Linked DNA regions of Homo sapiens. The protein of the gene in region 1 interacts with the protein of each later gene in a pairwise test. Each region holds a gene or a part of one and is shown on either strand. Other genes may lie near its edges.

Evidence for each region.
Region 2: the proteins of MRC2 (region 1) and NDEL1 interact in a two-hybrid assay, tested with the Homo sapiens proteins (2 studies listed by BioGRID and IntAct).

What each region holds. Positions count from the first base shown.
Region 1 is NC_000017.11:62,679,644-62,683,292, forward strand, and holds part of MRC2 (C-type mannose receptor 2 precursor), read left to right. Parts: intron 1-156; coding exon 157-259; intron 260-526; coding exon 527-665; intron 666-774; coding exon 775-810; intron 811-1,156; coding exon 1,157-1,317; intron 1,318-1,418; coding exon 1,419-1,486; intron 1,487-2,193; coding exon 2,194-2,294; intron 2,295-2,591; coding exon 2,592-2,734; intron 2,735-3,649. UniProt on the Homo sapiens protein: May play a role as endocytotic lectin receptor displaying calcium-dependent lectin activity. Internalizes glycosylated ligands from the extracellular space for release in an endosomal compartment via clathrin-mediated endocytosis.
Region 2 is NC_000017.11:8,459,804-8,463,452, reverse strand, and holds part of NDEL1 (nuclear distribution protein nudE-like 1), read right to left. Parts: intron 3,445-3,649; coding exon 3,293-3,444; intron 134-3,292; coding exon of another isoform or gene 99-133; intron 1-98. UniProt on the Homo sapiens protein: Required for organization of the cellular microtubule array and microtubule anchoring at the centrosome. May regulate microtubule organization at least in part by targeting the microtubule severing protein KATNA1 to the centrosome.

The sequences.
Region 1 (3,649 bases):
AACGCTGTATCGATGGGTCAATGTGAAGCCCAGATGGAGAGGCCCCAGGCCCTGGGGGCTGCCCCGGTCACAGCTGCAAGGGACAGGGGGCACGTTTGGGTTCCTGCCCCTCTCACTTCCCATCTCTTCCGTCCCCACTCCTGGGTTGTGCTGAAGTGAATCAGAACCCGAGATCCACGAGCAGCACTGGTTCTGGATCGGCCTGAACCGTCGGGATCCCAGAGGGGGTCAGAGTTGGCGCTGGAGCGACGGCGTAGGGGTGAGGGGGCCTGGGGTACTTGGGACTGCGAGGCCGGGAGCTTGGTGGGCGGGGCCTGTTTGGGGCGGGGCCTGGAGGTGGGCGGGTTTTCTTGAGGGCCGGGCCCCCAGTCGGAGCCGGCTTCAGGAAAGCAGGTCCGAGAGGGGTCACCCGGCCCCCGGTGAGAATTCGCAGCTCAGGCCAGGCCTCTTGTTCACCTGTTCCGGGCATGGGGGCGGCCTGCACCTTGCGCCTCACGTTCCTCTTCCCTCCACCCGCCTCCTCCAGTTCTCTTACCACAATTTCGACCGGAGCCGGCACGACGACGACGACATCCGAGGCTGTGCGGTGCTGGACCTGGCCTCCCTGCAGTGGGTGGCCATGCAGTGCGACACACAGCTGGACTGGATCTGCAAGATCCCCAGAGGTTGGCCGGAGTGGCGCTGGGGGACGCGGGATGGAGCGAAGGGTGGCGGGGCCAGGAATTCCAGGGAGGGTCTCCTTTCCTCACAACGTCTTTGTCCTTGTTCCCCTAGGTACGGACGTGCGGGAGCCCGACGACAGCCCTCAAGGTGAGCACCCCCCAGCCCATCCCGCTACCCATCGCGTGGGAGAGGGCGTCAACTCTGGGGTAAGTCCCGAGAGGCCTGAATGAAATGGAGGGGATGAGGAGTTCCGGTCGAGAGAAGGGGGACGGGGTTGGCTCGGACGGAGGCAGCCACAGCCCTGTTTGCTTCCGTGTGGGAGGCGAGGCAAGCCTGGGGCCTGGGGCCTGGCACGGTGCCTGCCTGGGTCCGGTGTGCCTGCAGGCTCGCCTGCTGCCGCCTGGCTCTGCCCCGGCCCTGCCGCGCCCGCCTCCGGGGCCTGGCGTGCAGCCTCTGCCTGGCCGCCGCTCCCACGCCCGCGCTGCTCCTGCAGGCCGACGGGAATGGCTGCGCTTCCAGGAGGCCGAGTACAAGTTCTTTGAGCACCACTCCACGTGGGCGCAGGCGCAGCGCATCTGCACGTGGTTCCAGGCCGAGCTGACCTCGGTGCACAGCCAGGCGGAGCTAGACTTCCTGAGCCACAACTTGCAGAAGGTGGGCATTGGATTGAGCAGGGGGCTGCAGGCTGGGGGAGGGCAGGCCCGGGATGAGGGCAGGGGGCTGCCTACCCACACCTGCCCGCCTGGCTTCTCCAGTTCTCCCGGGCCCAGGAGCAGCACTGGTGGATCGGCCTGCACACCTCTGAGAGCGATGGGCGCTTCAGGTAGGAACCCAGGCAGGCAGCAGATGTGGAAGGGGGCTGGCTGTCCACACACGGAGCACAGAGGCAGACTTGCATTTGAATCCAGCCCTGCCCCTTCCTTGCTGGCTGTGTGGCCTTGAGCAAGATACTTAACCTTTCTGGGCCTTGGTTTTCTCATCTGAAAATGGGAATATGAGGCCTGCCTGGTAAGATTTTTGTGAAGATTAGAAATAACATATGCGAAGTGCTTACGCAGCATCCAGCACATTAGTTACTAAATAATGGCAGCTCCTGTTACGTCTGGTGTCATTCATCATGACTAAGGCCCTCTCGGGGAAGTGGGCAGAACATATGATGATCCGGGGGCCTCTTTGTATTTGGTGCCTACTTACCATGTACTGGGGGGCTTGAGGCAGGAAGGACCAGGAGCACCTGGGACTCAGAATTTGAGCTTGTCTTTTTGCCCTTGGGCTTCCTGCCCTGGAGTCCTCAGGCTTCTTTTCTGGAGCAGCAAGTGTCCAGGGACAGCTGGGGCCTTATCTAGAGGCACCAGGTCCTTGGGTCTTTGACTGCCCTGAGCTCAGTAGCTCCACCCCTCAGCCTACAGCCACTAAACCCCAGAACCTGGGCCCTTCCCTGCCCCCATTCCTGCGGCCTTCATTGCTGCATCCGGTGGAGGCCCAGCTGGGGGCCGGTGCTGGAGTTACCTCTGCTCCATGCCATTGCAGATGGACAGATGGTTCCATTATAAACTTCATCTCCTGGGCACCAGGCAAACCTCGGCCTGTCGGCAAGGACAAGAAGTGCGTGTACATGACAGCCAGCCGAGGTGAGGGCAAGGTGGGGGCAGAGTGCGCAGTCAGCTGTGCAAAGGGTTAATGCTGGGCGAGCCTGGGCAGAAGTCATCAGTCTGTTCTCATTCTCTTTGTTCCCACAACCCAATAAAGGCTAGACTCAGCGAGGGGTGGACCTGTCTCCATGGTCCAGAAGACTTGAATTCGGAGCTGGACACAGGCCCTGAGCCTCTGCCCAGACTCCTCTCAGGGCATGAGGCTGAGTGTGCTGCCAGCCATGCCCTGCCCTGCTCTGCCCTGGGGGTGACTGCCCTCCCCTCCCCTTTCCGCAGAGGACTGGGGGGACCAGAGGTGCCTGACAGCCTTGCCCTACATCTGCAAGCGCAGCAACGTCACCAAAGAAACGCAGCCCCCAGACCTGCCAACTACAGCCCTGGGGGGCTGCCCCTCTGACTGGATCCAGTTCCTCAACAAGGTAGGAGGTGGCAATGGGGCACCCAAGGGAGTCAGGGGAGAGGACGTGAACAGGGAAAGGCTGAGCCTCAGGAGTCCTGGCCTTTTGGCAGCACCAAACTCATGGCCTCTTGCCTGTACCCACCAACTTCTCTTTCACCTGGCTCCAGTACCAGGGCCAGACTCCTTGGAAAATGACTCACTGTAGTAGCACCTTCCAATCCTCCGGGAAGCAAGGTTGTCCAAATAATTTGGTGAGTGTTCTAGATCAGTGATTGCCAAAGATTTTTTTTTTTTTTTTTTGAGAAGGAGTTTCACTCTTGTCACCCAGGCTGGAGTGCAGTGGCGCGATCTCGGCTCACTGCAACCTCTGCTTCCTGGGTTCAACCAATTCTCTTGCCTCAGCCTCCCGAGTAGCTGGGATTACAGGCACCTGCCACCACCCCTGGCTAATTTTTGTATTTTTAGTAGAGATGGGGTTTCACCATGTTGGCCAGGCTAGTCTCGAACCCCTGAACTCAGGTGATCACCTGCCTTGGCCTCCCAAAGTGCTGGGATTACAGATGTGAGCCACCGCGCCCGGCCTGATTGCCGGCCTGATTATCAAAGATTTTGATAATGAACTCCTATTAGTAAAACAAAATATTGAGCTTACATGACCAAACTATGTGTGTGTACATTTAACTTATATATGTATATGTGTGTGTAAATAAAACCTACTTCCATACTAATATGACTAATATTATATATAGTAAAATATGTATAAGAACAAAAGAGTATAAAACATTAGCTAAAGATTTTTAAATACTTTTAAGTTTAAAACATTTTTTTGGCTGCGCGTGGTGGGTCATGCCTGTAATCCCAGCCCTTTGGGAGGCTGAGGCGGGTGAATCACCTGAGATTAGGAGTTCGAGACCAGCCTGACCAACATGGAGAA
Region 2 (3,649 bases), about 54 Mb from region 1:
CCCCATGCAGTTAGTAAAACCAGATTGTTAATGTGTCTTCCACCACACACCAGGATTAAGAAAGAATGAAAAAGAGCACAGCAAACAAATTCAGTTACCCATGAACAACGTGGGAAATATGACTTTTTCTTGCCTAATAAAAGAAAGGAGAACATATTAAACAGTAATACGAATACTATTTCCACATCACGCCCTAAAATTAGTCCATGCCCACCTACACACAGCCCAAAAGAACTCAGAGTGGCTTACAAAAATAGAGCACATGTTACCTAAGAAACTACATAAAGTTATGGGAAAAAAAAGAGTGTTTTTGAGAGACTCCAAGCGACCACACTCCACATGAAATGTGTGTCCTTTCAGATGGTGAGACAAAGGGTGACCATGGTTGAAGGAAACAGCTCGGCACCTGGGAAGCAGGCACGGCAGCCCATGTTTCAGGAACTGGCAGAAGTGCTCACAGACTAGACAAAAACCTGATTCCAAGAAGCCCTCAAGTGACCAGAATTTACAAAATACTTTTGAATCCCACAGAGCAATACGCCCAGTTAAGGTATATTGTTTTATGTGAGAAGGCTTCACTGCATCTGAAGTTTCAGCGGGTGGGAAGGTGAACACATGTACACCCGCACACATGCACACACACACAAACCTACTTTGATGATGTCTCTCCCCCAAACAATCCTGCCGCAGGTTTCTGGCAGCACTAGTGAGCCATCACCACGGTGCTACAGACTCCTCAGGAGTGAGAGGGAGGGCAGGCAGGTTCTGCAGTGGAGGGCTTTTTCAAATGGGGCACTTTTCTCATGCTGAAACTACAAGCCATACTTCTCCACTTCTACACAGACAGGCTTTTGTGTTTTTAACCTGCCAGAGTGTATAATGGACCTGGGAAGTGGAATATCCTGCCCTTCCTTTTGCGGCTGCTACACAACATCTTGGTTTTTATCTGGTCAACAGGTTGGCAGAAGAAAAGCCAGAGGTAAAAAGCCAGACAGGCCAAAAGCCGGAATCGAAGCAAAGCGGCAAGAAAGTGAAAACACAGCAAAACCCACAAAAGAGTTATCCTCAGGAATACAGCAACTAGAAAGACAACTCCAGCAACAGTAGGTTAATATTTCAGTGCGCATACACAATCCACTTATCATATAAGCTAAACACTCACACAACAGCCAGCCCACAAAAGCATATTTCTTAATAGAAAAGGCACAATGTAAAATGTCTACCATTTAAAACCAAAACTCAGTATCTGCAACTGTTCCGATTGGGAAGCACAGCACATTTCCGGGTTCAGCTCAGGAAGTAAAGCCTACACTTACATCTCGGATGCTCTCAAGGGGCAGAGGTGCAGTCAGTGTGCCCAAGGCCTGTTCCTGGCTTCAGCTCACCCTAAGGTCCCCACATCTCCCTCAGAACAGGCTCACCTCTTGGCAATCCCTGCCCTGGTGCTCTGTCTTGGGAGGCAAGTGGCGGGCAGGAGTAGCGACCCTGAACAGACAGTGTTATCCTTCCCTCCTCGTGACTGTTCTTCAGGGCTTCCACACGCACAGGCACCTGTCCGACCTATCCATTTATGATTCACACCTGCTCTCATGAAAGGCACCTGCGGCCCATCAAGAAATACGATTCCAAGGAGAAACTAATAACTACTCTAGTAGAGGATCATTATAAGTTGTAGGGAAAAATAATTAGGCACTGCTTCCAACATTTATGAAGACTACCCTAAAAGTTCTCCATATCATTCAGGGGAAATGGCTACGCTCATGTAAAACCATCCAGTCATTCCATTTATCATTCCACTATAAAAACAAGGGCTGCCGCAAGTCTGCCTGAAACTCCTAAGCCTGAGGAAAATCAATTTTATGTTTACTCCACCCGAGGAAACCCAATGGTTAGAATAAAGTTCTGATTTCAGCTGGGCGCGGCGGCAAGCCCAGCACTTTGGGAGGCTGAGGCAGGAGGATCACTTGAGCCCAGGAGTTTGAGATCAGCCTAGGCAACAGAGTGAGACCCCCATCTCTTCAAAAGAAAACAAAAATTATTTAAACAAATTTTTTAAGAAAGAATAAAGTTCTAATTTGTATAGTGATGTTTTAGGATGTGCTTTTAATACAAAATCCTTAATGAAATGTATATTCTCCAGGGTAAAATCAGGGACAGAGATCAACCAAAACACTCCACTGCAAGGATAAGAGCCTATTCAGAGTGCACCGTGTGTCGAATCTGCTCCTTTACACATGTGCCATAATTATTGAGGACGGCAGAAAATCCCAGCTGCTTTCAGAGATTGTGAGCGTTTCTAGAGTTGTACCTGCTCTGCTTTCAGAGAAAAACAAGCAAGAATTACCTCTTTGACTCAAAGCAGAGACAGTAGCCAAGGATCACGGGTGCCTGTTGGCTGTTTCAATAACAACTACCTTAGGCAACACCGTGAGCATCCCAGGCCACGGGTCCTAATAGTGACCTATATTAAGGCATACTCATACAACCACGTATTACCATGTAGTATTTAAAAATAAATAAGTAAATTGAGGTAGAATAATATACATGACATGGAAAGATAATGGCAATAGAAGTCATGATAGGCACACTGCAAAGCAATATTTAAAGTATAATCCCGTAACTGTGTTACAAACAACTTAGAGCAGATGCATAAAAATATGATTTGGCATGCCTTGGAATAACTGTAAGGAATGCAGAAACAGTGTGAAGGCAGGAAACCATGACTTTTTAGTTCATATACTTCCATACTAACTGAAATTTTTTGCATTAAGGATGCTTCAACCTTAAAACAATTTTATTTCAATCTTCAAAAAAGCCTTAACTTTATACAAAAGTTGTATCTCCTAAACTGTATTTGATCCAGTGCCTAAGTACTTCAGGGCTTTATATTTCTCTAAAATTCTCACAGGGGATGTCTGTTGTAGAGTTTGCATATATTTAATTGTGATGCTGTCTTCTACCCCAAAAAAATATTTCCAAGTCTGCCAGCCTGTAAGCACCTGGAGAACAGGGACCTTATCGCAGTCATTTTGACTCACCAGAGCCTCACACTGCTGCCTTTCAAGAGTCTGCTTCCCAGGACAGAAGCCTCAGATTCAGGGTTCCTGGGGCAACAGACTCCATGGGGACTAGAGGACAACAACAGACGTCATGTCACCTAAGATTAGAATGATAACAGGCTTCGGGAAGGTTTGTCAAGCTGAGTTTACCTTTTCAAGGCTTCATTATGCTCACTTACTAACCTGTCACTTTACTACTCAAAAAATTATCACTTAAAACATTCAGGACTTACCCTTTGTCGAAGAAAGATGTATGCCCTGATCGAGAGAACTTTGTGCCATTGCCATTCAGCACCCCACAGTTAACATTCCCTGAAATATAGGATTTTCGTGATGCTTGGTCCTTTGCAAAATTCCTGCAAGCTGCTAATTTGGATTCTAAAGCCTACAAAAAAGAAGGAGGAATGATATGGTTGTCAAAACAGTAGCTGCACATAAAAATTTGCATTTCAAACCATTTCTATTTCAAGCCTCAAAACTTACTCATCTCAGTTGATAATGGTGGTTAGTTCAGCCATAATCAATCAACTTTCTAATAAAAAGGGGGAATACTTATGCTCCCTTTCTAATGACCTCAGAATATTTTGTTT